Homo sapiens: one gene and its partner. The protein of the gene in region 2 purifies or fractionates together with the protein of the main gene of each other region. This does not show direct contact. Each region holds a gene or a part of one and is shown on either strand. Other genes may lie near its edges. The genes, in order: IGSF8 and TSPAN15.

Region 1 (5,289 bases), on a different chromosome or scaffold from region 2:
AATGGCCAGGGCAGAGCCTGGATCTTGCCCCAGAAGCCCCAGCTGCCTGGGCAGCCCTGTGGGGTGAGAGAAGCAGTGAGCTCATGGCGCAGCTGGAGAGGGGAGGGCATTGTGTGGTGAGAACTGACTGGGCCTGTGCCCTTTCCAGCTAGGGTCACTGGCTCCATTGTCTCGCCCAGGTGACACAGCTGAGCCAACTAGCACTTCTGAGCAAGACTGCCAGCTCCCCTCAAGCAAAGGAGAGGGACATGTAGTCTCAGAGTCCCCTAGCCAGAAGGCTCCCCTTGCCAGGTGCTGAGGAAGGAATGGCAGACATGGAGGTGGGTGAGTGGCAGGGACAGATCAAGGTTCAGTTGGAACCAAGGCCTGGTTAGGTCAGGAATCAGATGTACTCCTTTCTGCCTTCAGGTGCTCTGCTTCTAGTCCGCCAGAAATGGGATGCATCTGGATGCCAAGGCAATCCTGGGCCCATGCCACCTCCTTGAGATCCAGGTGTCTTATATCACAGCATCCCTTTCCTATTCTCAGAACAGGGTCCAAGCTGTGGACAAGCTTTCCCAGGTCTCCTTTCCTTTTGTAGGCAGAGATCAAGAATGGTGCTTGTGGCGGCAGAGGGCATGGAATGAGGAACCAGGCATCTCCAACTCCTTCTGCCTTTCCCTACAGGAATGGGATGCTGGGCCCGGGAGGTGCTGGTCCCCGAGGGGCCCTTGTACCGCGTGGCTGGCACAGCTGTCTCCATCTCCTGCAATGTGACCGGCTATGAGGGCCCTGCCCAGCAGAACTTCGAGTGGTTCCTGTATAGGCCCGAGGCCCCAGATACTGCACTGGGCATTGTCAGTACCAAGGATACCCAGTTCTCCTATGCTGTCTTCAAGTCCCGAGTGGTGGCGGGTGAGGTGCAGGTGCAGCGCCTACAAGGTGATGCCGTGGTGCTCAAGATTGCCCGCCTGCAGGCCCAGGATGCCGGCATTTATGAGTGCCACACCCCCTCCACTGATACCCGCTACCTGGGCAGCTACAGCGGCAAGGTGGAGCTGAGAGGTACTGGGCCCTGGGACGGGGTGGAGCCACACACCCTCTCAAGGCAGAAAGTCAAGGCCACAAGTGACCTATCTAGTTGCCCCTTAGGTTTTGTAGCCAAGGAACTTGAGGCCCAAAGAGGTTAAGTGATTTGCACAAAGTCACCCAATAACTCAGTGGCTGATGTGGGACTCAAACCCAGAGTTCCTCACCCAGGCCAGTGCTCATCTTATCATATTAAGACCCCTCCTGGGAGAAGAAATGTCCTTAAGTTGTCCAGTCCACTTTCCATTCCCAAGAACGAAGAAGACTGTTGGGTTGAATAGCCTCTACTCCTGGACAGTACAGGACCCAGATCTGGGAAAGAGAGTAGAGTTAGGGAAGGAGTTAGACCATGTGACATTCTCACTCTCTTAAGTTTCTTTGTCTTCTGAGAAGAAAGAGCCGCTTTTCTCAGTATTTCAAACAGAGGTCAGTCTCAAACATAAGGGTGAGTAGGCGATGGGCTGGTTCTATGAAATTCTACAAGTATTTATTGAGCGCCTGTGCTGTGCCCAGTACTGCCCTTGGCACCACTGAGTTACAGAAGAAATAATACAACATGCGATCTTTGCCCTCTGGGAGCTCACAGTTTATTTAGGGAGATAGGCTATACACAGGAAACAGTAACAAGGGCTGCCAGCTCCCAGCCCTCCCTCACTCCAGCTGTTCTCTCCAGTTCTTCCAGATGTCCTCCAGGTGTCTGCTGCCCCCCCAGGGCCCCGAGGCCGCCAGGCCCCAACCTCACCCCCACGCATGACGGTGCATGAGGGGCAGGAGCTGGCACTGGGCTGCCTGGCGAGGACAAGCACACAGAAGCACACACACCTGGCAGTGTCCTTTGGGCGATCTGTGCCCGAGGCACCAGTTGGGCGGTCAACTCTGCAGGAAGTGGTGGGAATCCGGTCAGACTTGGCCGTGGAGGCTGGAGCTCCCTATGCTGAGCGATTGGCTGCAGGGGAGCTTCGTCTGGGCAAGGAAGGGACCGATCGGTACCGCATGGTAGTAGGGGGTGCCCAGGCAGGGGACGCAGGCACCTACCACTGCACTGCCGCTGAGTGGATTCAGGATCCTGATGGCAGCTGGGCCCAGATTGCAGAGAAAAGGGCCGTCCTGGCCCACGTGGATGTGCAGACGCTGTGTAAGTGCCACTTATACATCCCACTGTGGGAGCTGGGAGGGACAGTATCCTGGTGGGCACTGTGGCCACAGGGGGTACCAGATAGCCATCATCTGACTCCAAGGAACTCATCTTCCACAGAGTGAGCAGCCTTGCTAGCATTTCTCTCCCCCGGCCCTTGATGGGTTTTCTCTGCTCAGAAATTGGGTATAGAGATAGGAGGCCCATGCTGAGGGGTGAGATTCAAGCCCCTAAATAGAAAGATGGTCATACCTAGTGAGGGGGAGACAGGAGGTTTTGAAGTTGCTGCTGTCAAGTAGGAAACAGGAAGTTGGGGAATCGGGTGCCTCTGTGTCCCCTCCTGCCTCCATGACACCTCTTCCCCTACCTGTGTTTCAGCCAGCCAGCTGGCAGTGACAGTGGGGCCTGGTGAACGTCGGATCGGCCCAGGGGAGCCCTTGGAACTGCTGTGCAATGTGTCAGGGGCACTTCCCCCAGCAGGCCGTCATGCTGCATACTCTGTAGGTTGGGAGATGGCACCTGCGGGGGCACCTGGGCCCGGCCGCCTGGTAGCCCAGCTGGACACAGAGGGTGTGGGCAGCCTGGGCCCTGGCTATGAGGGCCGACACATTGCCATGGAGAAGGTGGCATCCAGAACATACCGGCTACGGCTAGAGGCTGCCAGGCCTGGTGATGCGGGCACCTACCGCTGCCTCGCCAAAGCCTATGTTCGAGGGTCTGGGACCCGGCTTCGTGAAGCAGCCAGTGCCCGTTCCCGGCCTCTCCCTGTACATGTGCGGGAGGAAGGTGAGAGGGGGCTGGGCCCTGGACGGGGTTCGAGGATTGTCAACCCCTTTTCCTTCTGTTTCCATGACCCCTCCCTCTCCGTCAGCTGTTTGCAGGCCACAGCCTCACGCTCCTCTTCTACCAAGATTGTGGGAATACCCTGAGTTTCCTGGGGCGGTGCTTGGCGGCAGCCCTAACCCCATGCTCCCTGGCCCTGCACCCTCTGACCCCATGTCCTTTGTTCTGCAGGTGTGGTGCTGGAGGCTGTGGCATGGCTAGCAGGAGGCACAGTGTACCGCGGGGAGACTGCCTCCCTGCTGTGCAACATCTCTGTGCGGGGTGGCCCCCCAGGACTGCGGCTGGCCGCCAGCTGGTGGGTGGAGCGACCAGAGGACGGAGAGCTCAGCTCTGTCCCTGCCCAGCTGGTGGGTGGCGTAGGCCAGGATGGTGTGGCAGAGCTGGGAGTCCGGCCTGGAGGAGGCCCTGTCAGCGTAGAGCTGGTGGGGCCCCGAAGCCATCGGCTGAGACTACACAGCTTGGGGCCCGAGGATGAAGGCGTGTACCACTGTGCCCCCAGCGCCTGGGTGCAGCATGCCGACTACAGCTGGTACCAGGCGGGCAGTGCCCGCTCAGGGCCTGTTACAGTCTACCCCTACATGCATGGTGAGTGACACCCCCTCCACCCTCCTCACTCTGCCTTCCTCCTGGCCTCTGCCACTGGCCTTCCCTTCCCATCTTCTGACCCTCCTGCTACTATCTCTCTCCTCCACATTATGTCACATGAAGTCTCAAAAAATCCAACTTCCAGCCCTGCAGTGCCCACCTGCACGGGGTCCTCTGTGGTTGATGCTGACTTGCATGCTGAGGGGGCAGGCTGTGGGCAGGGATGGGGGTGTCTGTGAATGGAGAAGGTGGGTTCAGAGAACTTGATGGGGAAAGCGCAGAGGCAAGTGTATGGGTGGAGGATGATGGCATCCTCTCTGAACAGTCATCCTCTCTCCCCCAGCCCTGGACACCCTATTTGTGCCTCTGCTGGTGGGTACAGGGGTGGCCCTAGTCACTGGTGCCACTGTCCTTGGTACCATCACTTGCTGCTTCATGAAGAGGCTTCGAAAACGGTGATCCCTTACTCCCCAGGTGAGGGAAAAGAACCCCCCAACCTTGTTTTCATTGGGCTTCCCACCCCCAAGTCCTGAACCAAGCTGCTCCCTCCCAGGCCCCACCTGGAGGAGGAGTAGGCAGCTCAGATCCACAGGGCCCTGTTAAGGGGTGGAGGCCGCGAGGGAGCCCCACTCAGGGCTCTCTGTCCTTAGCCCACACCGGGCACCCTTTTCAGGTCTTGCAGGTGTCGACTGTCTTCCGGCCCAGCTCCAAGCCCTCCTCTGGTTGCCTGGACACCCTCTCCCTCTGTCCACTCTTCCTTTAATTTATTTGACCTCCCACTACCCAGAATGGGAGACGTGCCTCCCCTTCCCCACTCCTTCCCTCCCAAGCCCCTCCCTCTGGCCTTCTGTTCTTGATCTCTTAGGGATCCTATAGGGAGGCCATTTCCTGTCCTGGAATTAGTTTTTCTAAAATGTGAATAAACTTGTTTTATAAAAAGCAGGCTTGGCTGTGTCTTCCCTACCATGAGACTGTAAAACGCTCAGGGTGCATAGTAGGGAGGTGGTTGGGGATTGACAACCTATTCTGGATGACCCAGGCCTCTCTTCCCACCACAAACACCATCTGGCCTCCATGGGCCATGCCACCCACCCCAGGAGGGGACACCTGGGTTCCATCTGCAGCCTGAACTGTCGGGGCTGAGACAACTCCTGATTGGACTCCTACTTGGGGAGGGAAGCATAGAAAAGGAGGGTAGGTTCCAGCTGCCTGTGGTCACCCCCGCACCAGCTTCTCCCATGTTAAAGGGCATGGGCCTCCAGGGGCAGTGCCTTTTCTGAGCTTCCCAGACTTTCCCCAACTCTTCCCACGTCTCATTCTCCTGGTCAGGCTAGTCTTGGACCTGACTCCTCCCACTAGGCCCTGGGGCTGAAATTGTTGTTCCTTCTGACCCATAGCAGCAGAATAGAAGCCTCAGAACACAACTGATACTCAGGCTGGGACAACAGGCAGTCAGGGGAGGGCCTGTGTGTCCACAGAGCCATTGCACCCACATGTACTCGCTGTACCTGCATATACCCTCTACCCGCATATACCCACTACACCTGCATATACCCGCTTCACCTGCCTGTACCTACCCTGGGGTCTCCTCCCTCCCACCCTTCAGCTTCACCCCTCCTCCAGTGCCCCAGGAGTTTCATGAATTTTCTTGCCTAAGG
Region 2 (7,000 bases):
CTGCTCCAACCTTTGGCCTTCTCTGTGGTCATCCTGAAAGTAAATTCCGTGTTATGGTACTGTGTGAAATGTCTGTTGCCCTGAGCACGGGGTGACCTGCCTGTTTAATACGCGTTGTGGCGGCCTCGCACTTCCAGGTTTGTAGTGTTTCCACATTCATTCACTCGCGAAAGCCGTGGTGTGAGCAGTGCAGAAATGAATGTCTTCAAGTCTGTCTTTCAGATGAGAACACAGACTCACATGGTCAAATGCCTGTCCAAGGCCCAGGGTTAGCAAGTAGCAGAGCTGGGGCTCGAACCCATGTTCTCTGACCCTCCAGCCAGTGGCATTTCCCCTAACCCATCTATACTCTCCTCTAAAGTGGCATCTCCAGATTGGGTCTGTAGTAGTCTGCTAGGGCTGCCATAACATCAAGTACCAGACTGAATGGCTTAAACAATAGACATTTATTTTCTCACAGTTCTGGAGGTTAGAAGTCCAAGATCAAGGTGGCAGGGTTGATTTTTTTTTTTTGTTGTTGTTGTTGTTGTTTTTTGTTTTTTGAGACCGAGTCTCGCTCTGTTGCCCAGGCTGGAGTGCAGTGGCACAATCTCGGCTCACTGCAAGCTCCACCTCCTGGGTTCACGCCATTCTCCTGCCTCAGCCTCCCGAATAGCTGGGACTACAGGTGCCCGCCACTATGCCCGGCTGCTTTTTTGTATTTTTAGTAGAGACAGGGTTTCACAGTGTTAGCCATGATGGTCTCGATCTCCTGGCCTCGTGATCTGCCCGCCTCGGCCTCCCAAAGTGCTGGGATTACAGGTGTGAGCCACCGCGCCCGGCCTGCAGGGTTGATTTCTTCCGAGGCTTGTCTCTGGCTTGTAGACGCTGCCTTCTCCCTGCGTGTTCACACAGTCTTCCCTCTGTGAGTGTCTGTGTCATAATCTCTTCCCCTTATAAGGACACCAGTCATATTGGATTAGGGCCACCTTAGTGACCTCATTTTAACTTTAATTAGTTCTTTAAGGGCCCTGTCTCCAAATATAGTCACATTTCGAGGTACTGGGGGTTAGGATTTCAATAGAGAAAATTTGGGGAAACACAGTTCAGCCGCTAACAGGGCCCTTTCTGTGCTGTAACCTGGGGCAAGCCTCCCCCACAGCAGGTACCACAGCCCCAGATGACTCTTTGCTGTAGAAAATCAAGTGACCTCAGTCTCTCTCTCACCCTCTGTTTTCTTGCTGCAGCTGATTGGGGCCCTGGTCCTGTCTGTGGGCATCTATGCAGAGGTTGAGCGGCAGAAATATAAAACCCTTGAAAGTGCCTTCCTGGCTCCAGCCATCATCCTCATCCTCCTGGGCGTCGTCATGTTCATGGTCTCCTTCATTGGTGTGCTGGCGTCCCTCCGTGACAACCTGTACCTTCTCCAAGCAGTGAGTGGACCACACCACCCCTCAGCCGGGACTCCCCAGGAGAGCTGGGGCGCCTGCCCCTGTGCCCTTGGGCAGCTCAGTTTCTTTTGTCCCTGCCTCAAACCACCTCCTTTAGAGAGCTCCTTAGATCAGCCCATCTGACCACACTGGCCCAAGAATGCCCAGGCCACCTCCCCTCCTGCATGTAAAAGCTGATTTGAATACTGTTCTTACTTAAACTCTGTGTTCATCTGGATGCTCAGTTGCGAGTAGGAAAAACCACACTCAAATGAGAGCAAGCAAAGACAAAAAAAGGAGATGGTAGTGAGTCATTAGCTCATGCAACCAGCAAACCCACACTGGGTCCAGGGGTTTAGATGGCGCCACTGGGCAGGGTTGGGCAATCTCCCCAGCCCCTGCCAGCCGGGGCTGCTCCCTTTGCAGTGGTCACTGCCGGCGTCAGGCCAACAAAGTCCTTATGGTTCTAGATCTCAGGAAATCTTTCCTACCAGCTCTGGCCAAAGTCCCAGGACTCTGGTGGGCCTGGCTTGGGCCATGTGCCCATTCTGGGATGGGGCATGGGGAGTCAATCCTACCTGTATCCCATTATTGTGGGGTGAGGGATGACTCCCTAAAGCTGGGGGTAGTGAGTAGGCAGATCCATTCACTCTGCACTTGTGTGTCTCTTGACCTCATTGTCTCCCCTCATATGGGAAGCCCCTACGATCCACTGTAAACCGGGTTTGGGTGCTACTTGAGGCTGGAATTTGCTGAAATCAGTTTGGGTAATGCCTGCTCTCTAGTAAAGGGCAGAGGTGGGGGTGCATATCCTCTAAGCTTCAGCCATCCCCCTCACCCACTGTGGGGGATCTGGGAAGTCACATCTGAGGGCTCTCTGTGGGGAGCTGGACATACTGCCCCAGCCTGCCCATTAAGCCAGGCCTAGCCCCTCTGGCTCAGTGGCAACGAGGCCCAGCTCTCCTTATGGTGGTGGGGGAAGGGCGTGCTCTTCCACATAGACCCCCAAGACAAATGGAGGTAACCATTTGGCTGGGACAGCTGAGTCACTCTTCCTGCCCTCCGGCTCCAGAGACAGGTTTTCCTGGGGCCTGCCTGTCCACGTCCACGTTCTCACAGGAGGAGGGGGCAGAGGCCTAGGAGCTGGTAGGAGCTCCCCGAGGGATGCTTCTCTTTGTGCTTGCTCTTGGAGCAGATGGTGCCTCCCCTGTACCCCACACACGCCCACTGCTCCTCTCCAGGTGAGTCTCTGAATTCTGTTTTCCAGTTCATGTACATCCTTGGGATCTGCCTCATCATGGAGCTCATTGGTGGCGTGGTGGCCTTGACCTTCCGGAACCAGGTGGGCCTGTGGATTTGTGTATCGGCCATGTGTGTATGGAGCACCCACTGTGGGTGCCTTGGGCTAACTGGGGGTATGGCAGTGAGCAGGGCAGATAACCCCCATGGAGCTTTCATTCTGCTGAAAGAGAATGACAGGCACTGAACAAGTAAAGCAGCGACTAAGAAAATGAACCAAGCTGACATGAGAGCGCCTGGGGAGGAGATGGGAGGCCCGTGCTGAAATGGTAAAAGGAGCCAGCTGAGTGAGGTCCCAGCAGAGGGAAGCTGAGCAGAAATGAGCTTAGCATGTGAGCAAAACAGCGTGGAGGCCACGTGGCTGAGGGTAGGTGGGGTGGAGAGGGGTGGAAGGTGAAGTCGAAAGGGCTGGCCAGGCAGATCACAGAGGTCCTTGTAGGCCATGAGTTGGGAGCTTGGAGTTTTTTCTAGAGGTGACAGGAGCCTTTGGAGAGTCTTATGTGGGAAGCGATGTGACCCAGTTTATATTGTACCATGGCTGCTGAGTTGGGGAATGGACAGTGAAGAGTTGAGGGTGTACACAGGGGCCCAACTGGGAGGCTGTGGGGGGTCATCCTGGGAATGGGGTAAGATTGCTTGTACCAAGGTGGAGGCAGTGGGCCTGGGCCAAAAAGGCGATTTGATGTATATTTTGGAGGCAGTACCATCAGAGGCTGTTATGCCGGCTAGAGGAGTGAGGAGAGGGGCAGGTTGACAGGGTGATGCCTGGCATCCTGGCCCTGGCAGGGTTTGCAGAATCCGGGCCCCTTAGAGCCAGAAAGGTTCTCGTGGCTCCCGGCTCCAGCTCCTTCAGGCAGGATGTACGCACCTCATACTAGCTGTGCCACCTTGGGCGAGTTACTTGGCCTCTTGGATTATTAGGGGACACCTAGCTCACAGATCTGATGAGAGAATGCCTGTGAAGGACTGGGCACGGTTCTGGCACATAGTGGTCAAGGCCCCACAAGAAGCTGGTGGTGGAGCAGGGCTGACTCCAACCCAGGGCTCCATCTTTCCTCCCATAATCTTCTTCCTTGTCCTCATCCTGCATTGCTGCCATAGGTGGGGCTTGAGGAGCAGGACATGTTTGCAGAAGCCCCATTCTCTGTGTCCACTGCCTGGCCTGTACCCCTCCCTACCCCAGACAGCTTGGTCCTGGTGCATCTGGACAGTTGCTGCTGGGACATGCGTCAGAGCTGTGAGCCAAGTTATCTTTTTTTTTAAAAATAATGTTTGTTTATTTTTTTGAGACAGGGTCTCACTCTGCCACCCAGGCTGGAGCAGTGGTGCAGTCATAGCTCACTGCAGCCTCGAACCCCTGGGCTCAAGTGATCCTCCGGCTTTAGCCTCCCAAGTAGCTGGGACTACAGTCATGCACCCCTGTGCCCAGCCAAATTATCTTTCTTTTCAGCAGTTGCTCTTAAGGCAGCAGGTGCTGTCCCACACCCTGGGTTGTGCAGACCTCTCAGATGGCCCAGGATCTGGCCCTGTGAAAATGTTCATGGGAGTGCCTGTGATTCCAGCCCAGGTGGGAGCAGGGACCACACCAGTTCTGCTGGGGCCTCCTGCAGTGGGACCTAACCACAGGCAAGTCTACAAACCTGGAATCCAGAGGTCTTCCTGTTTTATGAGCCCCAGGAAAGGGGCTTTATTCCATTTGCCCATGAGGCTGCTTCTCCCTTTTCCTCTTTTCTACCTGCCCCTCCCTTTGCCTCTTTTCTGCTTATCAGAGCCTCTCTTCTGAGCTGGCAGATCCAGCATGCTGGTTCACTTTCCAGCAGCCTTGAGGGGAGAGATCTTTATTCCATTTGCCCATGGGGCTGCCTTTCTGTGCAGCCACCAGAGCTCCTGGCCAGCCTGCGGCTTTCCAGGGGCTACGGGTTAGTGCTTTCCTGGCTGGAGCCCAGGTCCAGTTTGTGGCCAACTAAACAGACTCCTGGATATAAGGAGGAATCTCCACCAGCCCGTGACCCCGGGCATGGTTTCTGCTGCTAGGCATGGCTTGACAGTCAGACTGAAGTGGCTTCTCCACTCATACAGGGGCAAGTGGCCATCCTATCAATGGAGTCATGGAGGCACACAGGAGTTAAGAATTCCCCCGAGAGCACACAGCAAGGCAGAGGTGCCTCAGGAATGCTTCCCAGTCCTGACTTGCTACCTGCCCCTCCCTGTCCCTCTTTTCTATTTGTCAGAGCCTCTCTTCTGAGCTGGCAGATCCAGGATGCTGGTTTACTTTTCAGCAGCTGTGAGGGGAGAGATCTTTATTCCATTTGCCCATGGGGCTGCCTCTCTGTGCAGCCAGCAGAGCTCCCGGCCGCCCTGAGGCTTTCCAGGGTTAGCACTTTCCTGGCTGGAGCCCAGGTCCAGTTTGTGGTCAGCAGCGTCCACGGCCTTCATAAACTATCCTCCAATGATGGGCAGCAGTTCTGGTTTCTAGTGCATTGCTGCAGAGGCCATCTGATTTGTCATTTTCCAGTGCCCTGTAGGTCAACAGAACATCACCTCCTTCTTTCAAGTGATGGAGCTGGGCTGAGATGAAGGCTTTGGCTGGCGGAACATCCAGGGGCCCTTCAGTGCTCACAGCTTGGGTTTCCGTGGGCCTGAGGTCAGGCCTGACAATTTCTCATCATCCCCAGACCCTGCAGATGCTGTAGTCCGTGAAGGGTGCTCCTTCCCCTTGGGTGGTGTCCCCTCATGGGTAGGGCCTTGGTATGCAGCCCAGGAAGGGTCCTCACTGACGCCTCTCCGCTGTTTGGAGGCTCAAGCCATGATTCGTCATCTTGAAAACTTAAAAAATGAGATACAAAATTATAAATGCAGTAAGATCGCTACAATGAAAAAAATAGGTCTACAAAAAGACTTAAAGGAATGGAAATATCAGCATATGAACTCATATTTCCTCTGAGGGATGAGACTAGGGTGATTTTTCTCCTCCCCTTTATATTTTTCCTTGGCTCTCAATTTTTTTTTATAATCAAGGGGAAAATATCACAAAAAGAAAAATAATATCCCTTCCAACTCTAATGTGATATGATTTTGTAAAACAGGAGTCAGGCCAGTGGCGGGGATGGGGGAGGAGCGGCCTGGCTGTTGATGATGGTAGGAAGGGCAGTGTATGATGGAGAAAAAGGTGAGGAGCAATCAAGGTCAGCTTCCAGGAGGAGGTGATTTCCCAATTCCATTTTTCCCTGATCAAGAGGATTTCTCTGAGCCACAATGTAACAAGTTCAGTCTCCAGTGCCATGGGCCCTGGTAACTCTGAGTATCTACTTATGAAAAGTCAGAACAAGTCATTAGGTATTGGGGGAACCCACCCCCAATATTTCACCATAGGTTCTTTCTATTTTCCATAAGTGTCAGCCAGCTGAGAAATAAAGAGAAAGAGTACAAAGAGAGGAATTTTACAGCTGGGCCGCTGGGGGTGACGTCACATTATCAGTAGGACCATGATGCCCACCTGAGCCTTAAAGCCAGCAAGTTTTATTAAGGATTTCAAAAGGGGAGGGGGTGCAAGAACAGGGAGTAGGTCACAAAGATCACATGCTTCAAAGGGCAAAAAGGAAAACAAAGATCACATGCTTCTAAGGGAAAAATCAGAAACTCCTCATAAGGGTCCAACAAAGATCACAAGGCAAAGGGCAAAAGCAAAGATCACAAGGCAAAGGGCAAAAGCAGAATTACTGATAAGGGTCTACCTTCAGTGGTGCACATATTGTCTTGATAAACATCTTAAACAACAGAAAACAGGGTTCGAGAGCAGAGAACCAGTCTGAACTCAAATTTACCAGGGTGGAGTTTCCCAATCCTGAGGGTACTGCAGGAGACCAGGGTGTATTTCAGTCCTTATCTCAACTGCATAAGAGAGACACTCCCAGAGCGGCCGTTTATAGACCTCCCCCTAGGAATGCAGTTCTTTTCCCAGAGTGTTAATATCAATATTCCTTGCTAGGAAAAGAATTTAGCGATATCTTCCCTACTTGCATGTCCGTTTATAGGCTGTCTGCAAGAAGAAAAATATGGCTCTTTTTGCCCAACCCCGCAGGCAGTCAGACCTTATGGTTGTCTTCCCTTGTTCCCTGAAAATCGCTGTTATTCTGTTCTTTTTCAAGGTGCACTGATTTCATATTGTTCAAACACACATGTTTTAAAATCAACTTGTACAGTTAACACAATTATCGTAGTGGCCGTAAGGTGACATACATCCCCAGCTTACGAAGATAACAGGATTAAGAGATTAAAGTAAGACAGGTGTA

Evidence for each region.
Region 1: the proteins of TSPAN15 (region 2) and IGSF8 purify together in Homo sapiens (co-immunoprecipitation; 2 studies listed by BioGRID and IntAct, with this or other methods). This does not show direct contact.

Annotation. Positions count from the first base shown.
Region 1 is NC_000001.11:160,090,624-160,095,912, reverse strand, and holds the end of IGSF8 (immunoglobulin superfamily member 8 precursor), read left to right. Parts: exon of another isoform or gene 1-492; intron 493-666; coding exon 667-1,044; intron 1,045-1,741; coding exon 1,742-2,203; intron 2,204-2,581; coding exon 2,582-2,989; intron 2,990-3,217; coding exon 3,218-3,631; intron 3,632-3,974; coding exon 3,975-4,090; 3' UTR 4,091-4,105; intron 4,106-4,281; exon of another isoform or gene 4,282-4,304; 3' UTR 4,305-4,570; downstream 4,571-5,289. UniProt on the Homo sapiens protein: Member of the immunoglobulin superfamily (IgSF) that links tetraspanin-enriched microdomains to the actin cytoskeleton and plays several important roles in innate and adaptive immunity.
Region 2 is NC_000010.11:69,482,465-69,489,464, forward strand, and holds part of TSPAN15 (tetraspanin-15), read left to right. Parts: intron 1-1,226; coding exon 1,227-1,412; intron 1,413-2,676; coding exon 2,677-2,751; intron 2,752-7,000. UniProt on the Homo sapiens protein: Part of TspanC8 subgroup, composed of 6 members that interact with the transmembrane metalloprotease ADAM10.